2 separate regions of the Homo sapiens genome follow, and region 1 is linked to region 2. The links come from fine-mapping of genetic effects on gene expression. Tissue or cell type: whole blood. Region 2 holds a variant in brackets; the other region holds the start of a gene. All regions are shown on one strand. Distances are between the middles of the regions.

Region 1 (8,171 bases), 24 kb before region 2:
GAGAGGGAAGCCAGGTTCTGAAGACCTTTTCTGGAAAGCAGGGGGTGCCCTGTCCAAAGGGGCCTAAGCTCAGAGGGAGGGAGAGAGACGAACTCCTTCCTATCCATGGAGCGGGAGGTGACGGTGTGAAGCTGGCGGGACTTGCACCCCTTCCAGCCACCCTGGGCTTGGAAGAGAACGCTGATGGGCTGGGGGTACTCATGCCCTGGGACTACCTGGCAACAGGGTGAGGGACATGCTGCAGCCATAGGCGCCCAGAATGTGCATGGGTGTGACTTCAGGCTGAGGCCAAATTGACTAGGCCCGGGGTAGTAGCAGCTGGATGTGGGCTCTTTCTGACCCACTAGCTGCTTCTAACTAACCCAAAAACCCCCAGAAAAACCTTGGCGGGTCAAGAGATGAAAACGCAGCCCAGAGAATAGCTCCATACTGCCCCCGTGTGGTGTTCTCAAGCACTGCCCCCTCCCTATGCAGAAATCTAAGGCTAACAAGCGGATTTCATTAAAGGTCTGGTTTGTTTTAAACAGATTATCTATGTGTAACTCTCCATTTATACAAGATAAATCAGGGAATTACCATTTGCTGTACAAAATGACGATGCACTTTACTAAAGAATTCATCATGGGATTCCTATAAGTGGTGATTTTTTCCCCGATGTGTAAAAAATAATAATGAGGTAAAATTGATATTACACCTTTTATAGAAACCCATCTGTTGTGCAAAAAAAGCATGTGTATTTGGCTAAATACTGAAACCCGGAGGGGCACTGCTGTTGCCAGGAGCCAGCAGGGGCTTTGAGGGTGCCACCAGCTGCTGGAGGAAAGCAAGGAAATGGGCTGGCCCTGGTGGCTTGAGAGCAGACCTGGGCCAGAGTGCCTAAGAATTAAGAGCAGGACTGGGTAGAGACCACCTACCCACAGGGCAAATCCCCAAGCTCCACCCCCATGGTCAGAGAGTCCCATTGAGAAAATCTGGAGTGGCTTTGAAACAGCCCGGGGGCCGGCAGGAAGGCTCAGCGGAGAACCACACTTTGGGGAACACAGTCCTACACCTCTGCCCTCAGTCCCACTGGAAGCCCCGCCCCCACCCCAAAGACTGAAGCATCACCCAGAACCTGATGGGTGGAGAGAAGGACTGAGCAGGTGACAAGGAGAAGGGTGAGGGGAGCGTGCAGGGAAGCGGTACCGGCTGCCGACGCCGCAGCCTGTCTCTACCGTGGGCACACAAAAGAATCAGGCCGGTGCCCCCTAAGCCTACCTCCCCAGAGGGCATTCGACCCGGGAAGCCTCGCTCCCTGCTAATCATTCTTCCTCGCCCCTTCCAATCCCCGCTACTCGCTTACCTGGTCCCTGCGGGTCCCCCAGGGCCCGCCCCTGCACGCCCCCTCCTCGCCGGGCCTCCCACTCACCTGCGGCTCCGCGCGGGGGCGGTGGGCACCGGCTGGCCCTGGCTCTGTGCCTGGCTCTGCCCGGGCGGGGGCGCTGCTCGCTTGCGGGCGGGCTCCATGCCCGCGGGGGCCAGGCCGGGTCGCACGGCGGGGCTGCCCATGTACGGGGAGCCCGGGGGGCCCATGGGCGCCCCCTGGTGGGGCATCCGGGCTCCAGACGGCATCCCGGGGCGCTGGGGGTGGGCGGGGGTGAAGCAGAAACGGGCGCCCGTGGGTCAGACCAGGGCCCCCCGCTCCAGGCGCGGTGAGCCGGCGTCTCCCCTCCCCCACCAGACCCTCGGCTGGTGACCCTGAGCGTTGAGCGATGGGTGGGAGCGATGGGTAGGAGGGGCAGGGGCGCCGGAATCTGCGCGGCTCTGGCGGAGGGGCTTGGCGTCTGGCTGCAGGAAGCTAACTGAAGCCAGGCACCGCACAGGGCATTGCGAGCCTCGGGGCTGCGGAAGGTACCGCAAAAATGAATATTAATGGCGCCTTTCAACCTTTCAAAGATGTTCACATCCACATGCTCCTCTGCAAGACAGCCTGAGCAGGTCCTTTCATCCCCACTTGACGGATGGGGCCACTGTGGCTCAAGGAGAAAAATGACCTCGCCAAGGTCACACAGCTCATCCTGGCCCAGGCAGCCCCTGAAGGGCTGCCTCCTGGGGGCCCAGGGCTTTGCTCTCTGCGGCTTGGTTGAGGTCCGGTACCCGGCTCCCTGCTCCGACTTCTGCTCCTCCTCCTGCTCCTCCTTCTCAGGCTCCACTTCTTGGGCGGTTCTGCCTGGTACTCACTAGCTCATCTCAGCCACTCTGCTCCCTGTGTCCCTGCTTTTGACCCTTGGGTCCCAAACCCCACTCCCCTCGGCTGACTCCAAGTCCCCACATCCAGGGTCTTCGCTGACCAAGCTGCCCCCATAATTTGCTCCCAGGGTGAGGGCTGGAGGCAGGGCAGGCAAGGGCAGCCTGCTGGGGCGCCCCAGACACAGCCAGGATTCTCTGATTGGGAGGAGGGGAACTGCGTTAGAGGTGGGCTGCCCAGGGGGGCCTGGGGTGGGTCAGGGCAGTGACACTTGCACTCACATTTCCCTTCCTGTCTGCCCAGGTCAGCAGCCACCTCCTCCTCTTCCCATCCCCACCCCAGTGAGGTCAGCAGTCAGGGTTCATGGGGGCTGTGGAGACTGAGAGGAGGCGGCTCCTCCTCCCTTGCCACTACCCCTGGGTGGTCAGATGGGGTGTAAATGAGATGCAAATGCATCGAGCGAAGTGTTCCAAACCCCACTTGTCCAGACTCCAGAAGGGAGATGGGGAGGGCCAGAGAGAGTTTCAGGGGCTGTGAAACAGAAAGAGCGGGGTGGGATGGGGACTGGGACCACGAAAGCAGGAAGAAGATCAGAGGGCAGGGGATGCAGACCCTGGCACTGTTAACATGGACACACCACCCACCTCACCCCCAGGCATGAGGAGGGGCCCCCTTGGGCTTGCTGTTTTCCTTCCAACTGCTACCTCTCCCTCCTGGTCCTCCAGGCTCTGTGTCTAACCCTAATGTCCTCCCACCCTCGGTCAGCAGCTGTCTCTGCCTATCTCTCCTGCAGTGAAACCTGCCTGTCCATGTGTCTGCTTCCCTCACCCCACCTGACCCTGTCACTCAGGCCTCCAGGGTAGCAGCCCAGAATGGAGCCCAGGCCTGGCCACCAGCTAGGTGGGGCACTGGGGCTCACAGCCACTCAAGAACTGAAGCTGTAAGTTGACCAGATTAAAAAAACAGTCCACGTGTACAGCCTCTCCCCACTAGATGGGCCTTTTTAAAGGGGCTCCCACCAGCAGCCAGGTTAGGACTGGTAACTCAGCTAGCTGACATGGACACCTTGGGAAGTTACCCCCAGGGGTCCCTGGGGCTGGAGGACAGGCCACTCCAGGGAGTCCCCCTCTTCCTGTCAGCTGCTCTCCCCAGTTATCAAGGCCAGGGATACTGGCCCATCTGCTGAAGAGGCCCTGAGAGGGAGGCTTTCAGAGCCCCCAGAGAGCTGTGCCCGCCACCAGCCCCATCCCCATGAAAGGCCAAAATCCTAGGGACTCTGGCCTTACTGAGAGGGTGTCTTCCTTGGGGTCACAACCAAATTTGGCCATAGTAAACCCGACAGCTTCCTCTACACAGGGCCTCCACTCCCTCACCCATCCCAAGAGTCGCAGCCCCTGCTTCTCCCATTCCCCACCCCTCCATACCCCTCCCAGCCGGGCCCTACTGACTCAGCTCCAGCCTCCCGGGCTCCCACGTGCCTTCACAGCCTGCCTGTGGCAGGACAGTGCTCCCCTGTCCCTTCGGTCTCTAGGCCTCATGTCCCCAACTCCAGCCCCTTCCTTCACATGTTCGAGGAGTTAAGGACATCAGCTTCTGGTGGCTGAGTCCGCCAAGGAGACCCTCAGAGCCCCTAACTTGGGCTAAGTCCCTAGAGCGGTCCTCTCCCCCACCCTAAGGCAGAAGCTCCAGAGCCCTCCCGCTGGGATGCAGAGGTGGCTCAGCCTGCGAGCTTCCCGCTACAGTGCCTCCAGGGTCACCTGCTCCTTGCTCCGGAGACACAAGCAGTGACACTGTCCCAACGGATGAACAGACAGCCCAGCCCAGCCTCTGCCATGTCCCCATCCCCCACCCCCACCCCCAGGGCAGGGGCAACACCTGGGCCCACAAGGAAAAGAACGAAAGTCAACCTGTCGGCTACAGCGAGGACCCCCTACTTGGGGGGTAGAGTCCCCAAGTCCCACCCCCGCCCCTGACAAGAGCCATGCAAACGCCTCCCTTCCCCGCCTCGCGTCAGACCCGGCCGGCCGCCTGGCGACGTGTTCGGGTGCCAGGGCGCCAGCACAGTCCCGCGGCCGGGCCGTGGGCCATGACGCCCCCCACTAGAGGGGTGGGAGAGCGGGAGCGCCCTCCCGGCCCCTCCCGATCAGCCCTCCATTCAGCCCGAGCCAGCTCGCTTGCCCTCCCCCGCTAACTTTCCCCCACTCACCACCCCATGGACCAGAAACTCAAAAAGTTTGCTTTTCGTGGCTTTGCGCGCCCCTCCGGCAACTTCGTCCGCGGCCATCGGGGTGGGCTCAGCGGCTCCTCTCACTCTCTCTCTCTCTTCCTCTTTCTTTCCCTTTTCTGCCTTTTTTTTTCCTCCAACTCTCCCCTCTGAGTCCTGCTGGGCTCTCTCACACTTCTACTCGAGCGGAGTGGGGAGGGGGCCCCTTCAGGGCTGCCCTGACGGCCCACGGCCCACGCCGCCGCCGCCCGCCCGCCGCCGCCGCCGCCGCCGCGGCTGCCGCATTCCTGCACTGATAAGACAGAAATAGTCCGGCGGCCCGGGGTCTGCCTGTTGACTCGGCGGGGACGGGGCCGCCTGCCTTTCCAAGCCCGCTGTCCAAACAGCGCAGATAAGCGGCGAGGCGCGCCGACCAGCCCGGCCGCGGGCGCTGGGCAGCAGTGCTGCAGCCCGAAGCCGCCGAGGCCCGCGGGAGGCGGCGCGGGGAGGGGACGCCAGGGGAGGCGGCGGGGGGTCGCCGGCCACCGGCTCTCGCCACAAATAGTTTCTCCGTCAGGGAATTCGCCGGCCGCGCCAGGCAGGGAACAGTCAGTTCCAACTTTTCCCCCAGCGGCTCCTGCTGCATTTCTGAGGCCCTTTCCCCAGAGACCTGGCAGGCCGAGCAGGGAAACATTCGCTGGCAGGAACCGGGGGAGCCCGGCCCGCGAGGCCTCGCGCCTGCCCGGGGCCGGCGGCGGTGGGTGTGCCCGGGCGGCGGCGTGGCCCTGCGTCCACTGCTGTGTGTGCCCTTGTCTCACACGCCGTGTGTGTCCGCGCCCTTTTGTGGCGTGGCAGCTTATGTGCGTGCAGACAGACGCCCTGTATGTGTGCCTCCCTCCACGACAGCCTCCGTGCGCGCGCGCCTGCGTGTGTGGCAGGACATGGCCTGTGCCTTTCAGCTCTGTGAGAGGCTATTTCTGGGTATGTGAGTCTTTGTTTGCCGCTCTGTGAGAAAGTGAGGGCAATAGGGGAAGTATTTCAGAAAGAGGGACAGGGATTGTGCTCATGAGAACAGGAAGAGAATGAATGTGGGGAATGGCGCAGCGCCAGGGGGGTGCTCGGGTGGGTGCGTGGAGAGAACGAGGCAAGCTGGGCTTGGTTTCCTTGGGGTGGGGGTGGAGTGGGGTTAGGGGACCCAGAGGAGTTGGGGCAGCTGGGCTGGGTATAGTGGGTATATTGGGCCGGCCTCAAGACCCCAAAGAGAGGGGTCTTGAGGCTGGGGTGTGGCGTGGGGTGGCAAGGGAGCCCCAGAAGGGGCGTGTGGAAGGAGTTGGCAGTCCCTGGAGTGGAGGAGGGACCGGAAGGAGGAGGGGCAAATCCTGACATACCCAGGCAGGGAGTCCTGGGCCTACCCAGGTCCCCAAAGGCCACGCCCCTTTTTTCTCCTTCTTGGGGAGGAGCCGTGGGCTTTGGAACAAGGCCCTTGGGTCAAGTTTGGGGGTCTGCTGGGGCCTCACTGTGAGAATCCAGGTGAGGGCAGGACCATAGCCTAGTGCCTAGGGGAGTTTGTTGAAACACTTACTTGAAGTTGGGCCCTGAAGACTGAAGGGTACTGACCCTAAACCCTTCAGAATGCCTTTGCCCAGGGGGTCCTTTCTGCCTGCAGCCTGATTTCTGCTGGCCCTGGTTGTGCTCTTGGCTGTCACTGTTCATTTAGGTGCCCACTGTCAATCTGAAATGTCAGGGAGGACATCTGGTCCAGGTTGCTCCTCCACCACCCCTAGCTTGAAAGGGGACCTAGAGATCCCCTTGCTACCAAATCTCTCCCAGGGCTTTAGCCTAGACTACCCCCCACACACCCCCACACACAGAGCCTGGGCCCTGACACGGTGGGGATGGGTGGGTGGCCTGCCTCTGTCTGCCATAGGTCATGCTGCTGGGAACCTGGGGAAGTGACTTGCCCAGTCTGCCTGCTAACCTCCAGAATCCCCGCTCACTCCCATTTCTTAGCCCCTGCCCCCGATTCTTTTACCTGGAATGCCCTTTGCCTGCCCTCTGCCTTCCCTCTGCTTGTCCAAATCACACCTATTCTTTAAAGCCCAGCCCAGGCCCCACTTCCTCCAGGAAGCCTTCCTTCGTCCTACTTGTATGCAAAGATTTTTCTCTTCTCCAAATGCTCATTGCCATCTACCCAGCACCATGAATTGGCATTGGACTGGCCTGACGTGCACTGTGCTTCAAGGACATTAGCTTTGCTTTCCCAGAGAGGCTAAGGTCCCCATAAGGTCAGAGACTGATCTTTAACTCCCACTCTTCCTCCATGCCTGGGCACAGGAACTCAACAGTACCCCAGATACCTGATGCTTGCAAAGCTTAATGAGCCAATGCATGGAGCTGGTACTCTGCCATTTACCTGATGGTGTGAGTTACCATGGGCACCCCCACCCACCATGGGTGCGTCTAGCAGGGGCATGGGAAACCACAGGCCTTGGAGGTTCTGGGGGTTGGAGATAGACACCCCTAGGCTTTGTTAAAGCTCAGTGTTCTCAACTATTGGAGAGACCTTTTGGGAAAAGAAGACAGCAGAGGAGATGCTGGGCACTCCAGTTTGGGTAGCTGGGAAGTTTGAGGCAGGGCCTGGGAGATCCCGGGCTTGGTCTTGGTGGTGGAAGAGGTTGCGGGAGGTAGTTAGACGAGGGGCTATGGTGAAGCCCCTGTGGAGGAGCTGGTGAGCTTCACCCAAGTCCATACATAAGCGCTCTCCTGAGCCACCCCTCTGGGAGACATCCTTAAGTGTACACAGACAATAGATACACCTTGCACACACACCCTCCCAACACACACACAGCAGGCACACCAATACAAGCACCAAAAGGTCGAGGAAGCCACATGGCTCTGCACACACAGGCACACCTTGAGCACCTCCACATCCCGTGGTGGGCCCCATTCACAAGGCAGGCCCAGACACATTTGCGTACTGCTTTTAGGTGGGCGACAGGAGGAGCCTTCAGACCAGAAAGCTGGGGCGGCGCCAGTGTGGGGGCCCGGGCCAGGGCTCCCTCCTCACAAAGGCCAGGATCCCCAGTGGCTTAACCCCAGAAGGGCGCTCGGTGTGCCACGCCGCCGATGGCTCCTGCGGGTGGGAAGGAGGCCCGGGAAGAGCGTGGATTCCTCCCAGCGCAATAGGGCGCCCGCCGCACTTGGGGCAGGCCGTGCGCCTGTCGGGGGCGAGGGCGGCCGCCCGGCGCCCGGCGCCGCAGTCCCCCCTGCCGTCCCCCCATCGCTCCTTCCCTCGCTGAAGCACCACCAGCACCAAATGGCAAAGCGCCGCTCCCCGCGCAGGGAGAGATGCGCCGCGGCCTGCGGGACGGGCTCGGCCGCCTCGCCCCCACCGCGCCCGAGCGAGCGGGCGGCGGCCGGGGAGCTGGGGGGGCTCGGGCCGGCCCGGCCCGCGCCGCCCCTCCCTCCGCCCGCGCCGGTCCCCGGCCTGGGCATGCGCGCCGCGGCCTCCCTCCCGGTGAAGGTCAGCCCGGGGCCCAGCTGCAGGACTCCGCGGCGGCCGGGGAGGCGGCGGAGGGAGGAGGGATGCGGGGAAGAGACTTAACTCCTTCCCTGCGGGAAGATGGCCACCTAGGCCGGGCCCCAGCCGCAGTCCCGCCCTCCTGCCCTCCGTGAAGGTCCCACCACGGGGACTCCGCTCGGGGGGCGCGGCAGGAGGAGCAGGAGAGCGGGGAACATGGA
Region 2 (8,171 bases):
TTGGCAAGACCAGACCACCAGTCCATTTAGAGACAATCGGGTGGAGCTGAGGAGGGGCTGCCCCTTTTCAGAGGGGCGAGAGCCCTCCGATTTGCCACATCTCCTCCCCATTCCCTATTTTAGGGGTTACAAACTCAAATGACCCTAGGGACACAGCAGTGAAAGTCAATGAGTGGAACAGGCTGTGTGTGAGATGATAAATGGCCTTTGACCTTGAGCCTCAGTGCTGGGGGCAAAAGAGGAGGGGCTGGGTTGAGACCCTGAATAAAGGGGTGGCTGTCTTGTCTCTGTGAGGGCCCCTGAGGTTTGGGCACAGCAAATTTCTGAGGGCTAAATATGGTGGAGAGACCCCAGTTGGGACTCTTGCCCTGACCACTGGGAAAGTTCCTTCATGCCCTGTGCCTCAGTTTCCTTATCTGGAGAGGATGATGATTATAACAGCACTTACCTTATAGTGTTGTGGTTAGGATAAATTAAACCACACAAAATTCTCTCTCTTTTTTTTTTAATGTAGAGATGAGGTCTCGCTTTGTTGCCCAGGCTGGTCTTGAACTCCTGGCTTCAGGCGATCTTCCTGCCTTGGCCTCCCAAAGTGCCGAGATTACAGGCATGAACCACTGCGACTGGCCTAAAATTCTTGAAATAGTTCTCAAAGCCCACAATGATCCCTCAGTCTTTACTGGCTGCTATTACTCTGCCCCCAGTCACTTCACTCTTTCACTTCCTGCAGGTCACTGTGTTTGTGGCAGCTGTTCTTGAATCTGAGGTGGGGGCTGTGATGGCAGGTGGCAGGGGGAGACATCCCTGCCCACTGAATGGATCTAAAGTGTCTCAAAGACAGACTTTTCTTTTGAAGGAAGAGGCCTGGGTAAGATGCAAGTGAGGTGATGGTGAAGGGGGAGTTAGAAGGGAAACTGAGGCAGGAAAAGGCAAAAGCACAGTGCTGCTTCCTGCTGGGCAGAGTGGAGTGGGTGCTGTAGACCTGAAGCTGGAGCTCAGCTTCTCTTGCATCTACTTAGGCCCCCACGGGGGACACCTTCCGACCCACCAGCACCTCCTTCAAGCCTACACACCCTCGAGTCCCCTGCTGTGGATTCAGCTGCCGGCCCACCCTGAGCCATCTCCAGGGACCACAGGGCTCTCTCCTGCGCCCTGCTGGCTCACTTTTTCTTTTTTCCAATTAAAAACTTTATGAAAGGCAAAGAAGACAGGCCTTTCACACCTGCAGACTGCATCAGGCTGGATGGGAGCTGTGGGCTGGAAAGATGGGCTAAAGCTAAGATAGCTCCATGTTGGGGCTGACAGATATGGAACAGGAAGAATGGACTTCTGCGTGTCTGGGTGGTGGCCAGTGGCGTATGCGGGCAGCATGAATGGCAGGCTGGGACCTGCAACCAAGGGAGGCATCGGTGGCATTAGATGGTGCTCTGGGGTCCACAGATGACACCTGGAGCAGGGACAGCGCTCAGCATCCCATGTGAACACTTGCAGTGGCGAGGGGCGCTCGGTGAACGCAGGCATTGTGCAGAAGGTCCGCCATCACCATTGCTTCTTTATAGAAGGGCATGATGTCCCATTCTACAGATGAGACATGTCACTCAGAAAACTGAGTACCCCTTCCCCATCTGCCTGGCTGGAAAGGGAGAGCTCACCTTCTAGCACAGGCACAGGTGGCTCCAAGTGTGGGCCATGGCCTTGGGGGATCTTCAGCGCTCCCCAGGGGGCACGAAGGCTGGGAATATTTGAAAGAGCCAGAGCTGGATGTTCCGAGCGGAGACAGAGCCTGTGCGAAAGCTGCCTCCAAATGTTGAAAGGTGGTCAGATGGCTTGGAGGGAGAAAGGGGTTTCTCCCTGCAACTCCAAAAGGCAAACCCAAGGTCAGAGGGAGTGACATTCTCCCTCACCATAGGAATAACTGAAGAGGGAATGAGCATGGAGCACTCCTCCAACCACGGAGTTACAGGAGGGAGACGCGGGGCACAGGGCAGCTCAGGCGACAGCAGGACAAGGTTGGCAGGCAAGAAAGGCCCACTCTTGCATCGTGGTGGTGTAGAGAGGGTGAGGCTGACAGCACCAAGAGGGATCTGGGGCTCATTTTAGAATCAGCCGTAGAGCCACCCCCTCTCTGTCCACTGCCTCACACATTTGCTCATTCATTCAAGAAATACTTCTCTGTACTGTGTGGAACAAGACAGATGCAGCCATGCCTTTAAGGAGCCCTGCAACTCAGTATTAGCCTCTTTGGTAGGTGCTGCAAGACAGAAGAGAGTGGGTGGGCCTTCACGCCCAAGCCGGGTGGGAGAAAGCCTCCCTGGAAGAGGTGGAACTGACGTGGAGGCTTCAAGGATGAGTGCAGTTAGCCAGGTGAAGGGAGCTGGGAAGGGTGTCGGAGGTGCAGGGAACAGCATGTGTGAGGGCCCTGAGTGAGGGCACGAGAATGAAGCCACTAGGAAGTGGAAGGCGGAACAAATCAGATTTGTGTTTAGGAAGCCCATTCTCGTTACTGTGCTGGGCCGGGGTCTGATGCAGGGACAAGGCTGAGTATGCGGCACTCAGATGGGGGCAGAAGATCACAGTGTGTGGACCAGGGCAGTGACGTGGGAAATCAGAAGCAGATGGAATTGACACTTATCTAGGAAATAAAATCAAATAAAAGGATGTGGCAGTTGTTCCAATGGAGAGGTAAGAAAGGGGGTGGACTTGGTCACTTCAGGTCTGGACCTGAGCCTCAATATCACTGTTTAGCAATGTGGCCCATCCACCCCACTGCAGAGGGGCCCTACTCCCTTGTCTTCATGTGTTCACAAGGAAACATGTACTGTATTCCCAGGAGAGGAGATACTGGAATGACCCTGGCCCTCTCCCCACCCTTCCTCCCTGTGGGAGGAGGCTTTGTCTGATGAGGTGGTGAGGGCCTGCACCAGCCGCACAATCCCTTTCCCAGGCGGGTGGGGTGAAGGTGCTGAAGGCAAGGCTGCTTACCCTGTGGCCAGCATTCCTCTTCTAGACGAGTCTGTTTTAGGACACAGATCATCTCCTTCTGTTCCCATGCCCAGGTAAGCAAACCCAGGTTAGGGAGTAGGACCTGCCTTCTACACTTGGGCCTCAGGTTCAAGCCTCTCTTCAGCTTGAATTTCCTTGCACTTAAGTTAACTGATGCCTGTGCCTGTTTTTCCATGGGTTCAGGACCTGTGGGGAAAGACCAGGACTGGTCCCTCCTCATACCCAAACTCACCTGTGGGGCCTGTGTGCTTAAGGAGCTCTTTATTTCCTATAAGGATATTACCCCTACCTGGAGAATGTGACTCTGTACTTAATTTCCAATTTTAAATAAACCTTCCTGCTGCCTGATATTTATCAGAAACATTGTTGTAAATATCAATATAGAGAGTATTTCCTGGCCAGGCTCGATGGCTCATGCCTCCCAACACTTTGGGAGGCTGAAGTGGGAGGATTGCTTGAGCCCAGGAATTTGAGACCAGCCTAGGAAATATAGTGAGACCTCATCTCTACTAAAATAAAAACAAAACAAACAAAAGCTAGGGGGCATTGTGGCTTACGCTTGTAGTCCCAGTTACTCAGGAGGCTAAAGCAGGATCGCCTGAGCCCAGGAGTTGGAGGCTGCAGTGAGCCATGATCACACCACTGCACTCCAGCCTGAGCAACAGCGTGAGACTCTGTCTCTTACAAAAGAGAAAGAGGGTATTTCCTGAAGGTAGCAATGCATTCCTCTAGTTGCTCCAAATTTTAAGTTTGGGTTAAGCAATATTACCAGTAGGTTTATGGCTGGGGAGTATTGTGTTGGTCCTTGCCTTAGCCCTAGGAAGCAGTTGTGACATTGTTGAGAACATTGCATAACTTTGTCACATGGTATC[C/G]CCTTCATTTCCTCATACAGGAGAGACCTCCCAGTGGCTCGGGACCAGAAATCACGTGATTTGAGCAAGTTGTTTGATTTTTATCTCATGCACAGTGTAAATCATGTAACTGCTTGCTTCTCTGCTGGCATCGGGGTCTCTGGGCCTCGTGGTTTGCATTTGGTGCAGTAGCCACATCCTAGGCAACACCATGTTTTCTCTACTCTATCTCTGTCTCAGTTTCCTCACTATATGTATCTTTGCAAACTACCTGAAACCCTTTTCAGGATGAGGCGGAGCATAAGAACACCTCCCTGTGTCTTCCTCTCCCTCCCTTATGGCACAGTGTCCCTCACTCTAGGGCATTTTCCCAGAACGATCTTCAGTCTGGGAAAAAGGTTCACATGGGAGATGGTCCAAGTTTGTAAGTTGCAGTAGGAGGCCTGTGTGGGGCGCACGCTCATGAGGCACGTTCTCAAATCCCTGGAAGTAAGTGTAGAGTGCCAAGAATCGGTGTCACAGCTTGGAAAGTCAAGAAACCGAACGCGCTATCCCAAAATGTGGGCCTGGCTGAAGTGATCAGCCCTCCTCTACGGTCCTTTATGAGTCACCAAGGATTCCCACACCCCTCATTAGCAAGGAGCACAGGGGGACACAGCAATGGTCCCTACAAGATGTCCCTCAGCCAAGTACCCGTCAGAGGCAGGCGGTGGCCTCAGCTTGGCCCCTCTGGTACAGCAATTCCAGATGGTTAGGAGTCCAGCCACAGCTGAGGGAAGTCCACTCATCCCCGATGGGTGGCTCAGCCTCCTCCCAGTGACACCTCTAGCTCATTATCTCCACCACTTAATTTTCACTAATCATGAGCACTCACTTGCAGTCACACCGCCAGTTTTGGGGTGAGGACGGACGCCTAGGCACCAGCACCAGGGCCTGTCAGCATCCAAATGCCCAAGTGCCTGCCTGGCTGCCAAGAGCCTGCAACGCACACCGCCGATTGCATGTGAATGCAACTCCAAGATAAGATGCCAAACTTCCACCACCTTGTCACTCTTGGAGCTGGGGCTTCTGACTCATGGCCAGGGTCACTCTGGGGCCAGGTGTCACTAGGATGGACCTACTGCCCCAGGGCTCCAGCTCCAATCTTCACAGGCCTCCTCTGCCCTCCTTCCCCTGTGCCCATCCTGCAGTGACCCTTCAGGAAAGGTCTGGAACAGCCCAAGGCTCCCTCCGACTGCTGCTGGGGAGCCCCTTAGGGCCTAACGAAGGGCATGTCAAATATTAGGAGGACTCTCCACGTGGGGGACCACTTCAGGTGCACCCCTCCAGGAAGCTTAGCTGCCTCCCATCAGCCTGCCCCCCGTTCAACCTGGCCTCTAACCTCAGACACCCCAGAACTGTAGAGTGCTTGGTTTAATATACTAGTTCTCACCTTTTCTTTATGAATTTCAGCTAAAACACCAACCACCACAAACTGAGCAACCAGTCCCCAGTTCACCTCAGGTGCTGGGGAGGTGTTGGGGATAAGGGTGGGACGTTTGCTTGGAGGCCTTGACTTTCCTGCAGGTGGACTGGGGCTTCAGGTGTGGGGCTGGGCATGCCGCCACCAGGTGTGTTTCCTTGGTGATGGGTACCAGGTGACTGGTGCCTGCTGCTGCCCTGTGTGGCTTGGATCCTCTGGGCCAGGCCAGCTTCCCCAAAAGCCGGTGCCCTGCCCCATTTTGCCCTGGGCCTGCACCTCACTGGAGGAGGAGGGGCACTGGGGCAGTTTGAAGGGGAACGGGGCTGTCCCTGGCCTTCAGAGCAGCCTGGCAGGAGGATGAGTTCCTCTGCCCACTTCTGAGGAAGGAGAAGCAGAGAAAGCACTTTCATTCTGCCCACAGCCCCAGGCCTCCCCGAGCCTCAGGCTCCTCTGGGCCATTTCCAATTGCACCTTTCCAGGACTTTCCTGATGTCTCCCTCCTCAGTGCTCTGAGGCCTGTGTGGTCTGTGGCCCTTTGTGCCCAATTGTCAAGGCTGCTCTCCAAGGCCGCAGGCCCTGAGGACAGGGACTGGGCTCCACATACCTTGAGGCCCTGCCAGTACCCACCCTGTTGCCAGGTGCCTCCCACCGGTGAGGCCAGCCAGCGTGATGATGGGTGGGGCTGGGCAGGCAGAGCTCAGACCAGACTTCAGTTCCGACCCCTTACCATGCCAGCTGGGGCTCTGGGGCAGGTGGCTTTTCTGCCCAGAGCCTCAGTGTGTCCTTCTGGACAAGTGGGGACTGATGCGGACAAATGCAGACCATCTTCCTCTCACTCCTTGAGGAGGAGGCTTAGGAAGGCCCTACAAGCAAGCAATGGCCCAGAGTGCATCAGAGCTAGAGGTCCGCCTGGGGCAGGGCAGGGTTGGCTCCCACTGCGGGCTGTGCAGTAGACGGCTGCCACCTCCCTCCTGCCACAAGCGGAACCCTGCCTGGGGCCCTGAGGGTTTTTAGAGGTTTCTGAGCACAAGTTGTGCCAAGGAATCAGCAGGTTCCTTCCAGCTCGCAGAGAGCATGTGGTGTGTGTGCATGTGAGCATGTGCACGTATGTGCACGCTTCTTCATGTACGCAGTGAGAGGAGATGGGGTGTTGTCTGGCTGTCTAGGTGGGGAGGAAGTAGAGCATGCCAGAGCCCAGACCATGCTCACATGAACCCAAAACTTGGTTTCAGGTAGCTTGTCCCTGGCTCAGAAAGGCTTTGAGAGGCAGGACCTAAGGACACCAGGAGGTGAGAGGACACGCAGGAAAGGGAGTGTGGGATGGAGGGAAGGACATTAATGACAGGTGTCAGCAGGGGTGGGGAGAGGGACAGAGAGGCCCTGCCATGGGCACTAAGGAGTCCAGCTGGGGGCAGAAATGCCGGGAGGGGGCCATGTGGTGGGAGCAGGAGCCGAGGGCTGGCCGACTCGCCATGGGGCCCCAGAGCTTCTGCTCCTGGGCTGGCAGGGGAGGAAGCACCTACCTGTACCACGGTGGGTGGGTGCTGAAGACCTGGAGTCATAGATGGCAGGGTCCTGCACCTGGAGAGTCATCCAGTGCCCCCTCGGTGCCTGGGCCCGGAGCCCACCGCGCCTGCAGCACCAAGGGCCATTCTGAGGATCTGAAAGGAGAGGTCAGACCCTGAGCCCCAGCGTAGATTCAAGGAGGCCTCGGGAAGCTGCGAAGAAGCCAAACTCCCCGGAGTGGAGGTCTGAGGAAGCCAGGACACTGTGCAGAAAAAAGGGCCTAGGATGGAGGCAACCAGCATGGGCCAGCTGGGGCTGGGGTGGCACAAGGCAGGGCGCAGGTGGGAGCAGTATGTGTGGGAAGCAGACAGAGACCGGCCCCAGGGTCCTGCGGGACAAAGAACTTGAAAGACAGAGCAGGGACCCCAGGCAGAGCCCAAGCCCTGACTGGAGAGGCCAGTTTTGGGGGTGTGGCAATGGTTGGAGGGAGAGAGCTGGGCATTGGAGGCAAAGGCCAGAGGGCAGGTCAGGATGGTAACTGGGATGGCCCTGGAGCCCAGGGGCATGGAGGGACTCCAGAGGTGGCAGGCAGGTAGTCAGCCTGCTCCATGACTACCAGCTGGCCTAGGCGCCTCCCTCCTGGTCCCTGCTAGTGCCTGCTCTGTCCTGTCCTGCCCTGCTTCCTTCCTTGCTGGAAGAGCAGGAAGGCCTCCAGCTCGTTGGGTCAGGACCCAACTTATGAAATGAAGTCCCTGAGCAGACGGTGGGGCATGGGAGCTAAGAAGAGAGCAGTGCTGTAGGAGCGGGGTGTGGGTGACAGAGGTGGGGCTTGGGAGTGGCTCAGGGTCTGGTTAAGCCATGTGAGCAAAAGAGGCTGCTGCCCATGGATCAATCCTGAGCAGGGTTGGGAGGAAAGGGGATGAGGAAGGAGGAGGCTGGAGACAGGGAGTGCTGGGGATGGGAGAGCTGGTGGGGTCCGGGAGACAGAGTGGGAGGGGAGGATGAGGAGAGGAAGATGCGGTAGGGGAGGGGCTACCAGTCCAGGGTCGGGGGGGAGGTGCCCTGCAAGAAGGTGGGGGACAGAGGGACAACCTGAATAGGAGAGGGGTATCCAGGGAAGACGGTGGCCAAGTGGAGACAGAGAAGGTGCCAGGCAGGGGAATGATGGGAAGGTGCTAGGTAGGGGAAGGAGGGAGAGGATGCCAGGCAGGGGAAGGAGGGAAGGTGCCAGACAGGGGGAGTAGGAAGCAGAGCATGCCAGGCAGGAGCAGGTTGAGAAAGTGCTCGGCAGGGGGGAGGTGACAGGCAATGGGAGGAGGTGGTGCCAGACAGGGGGAGGAGGGGAAGGT

What was found. PIP is the estimated chance that this variant, and not a neighbour inherited with it, causes the effect.
Region 1: it holds the start of SMARCD3, and the variant in region 2 is fine-mapped to the expression of SMARCD3 in whole blood (TOPMed, PIP 0.99).

What each region holds. Positions count from the first base shown.
Region 1 is chr7:151,244,052-151,252,222 of GRCh38, forward strand. It overlaps SMARCD3 (SWI/SNF related BAF chromatin remodeling complex subunit D3), which reads right to left and starts at 4,643. Exons shown (of 13, transcript NM_001003801.2): 1 at 4,434-4,643; 2 at 1,409-1,620. The coding sequence starts at 4,511. RefSeq lists enhancers at 587-1,161, 1,162-1,735, 1,736-2,310, 2,311-2,884, 8,164-8,171 and silencers at 1,398-1,697, 1,718-1,797, 2,872-3,166, 5,214-5,303.
Region 2 is chr7:151,268,275-151,276,445 of GRCh38, forward strand. It overlaps a transcript of SMARCD3 not described here. Among named protein-coding and RNA genes, the nearest start is that of SMARCD3, 24 kb to the left of the region's middle. RefSeq lists an enhancer at 6,396-7,195. The variant C/G (reference allele first, on the strand shown) is at 3,876.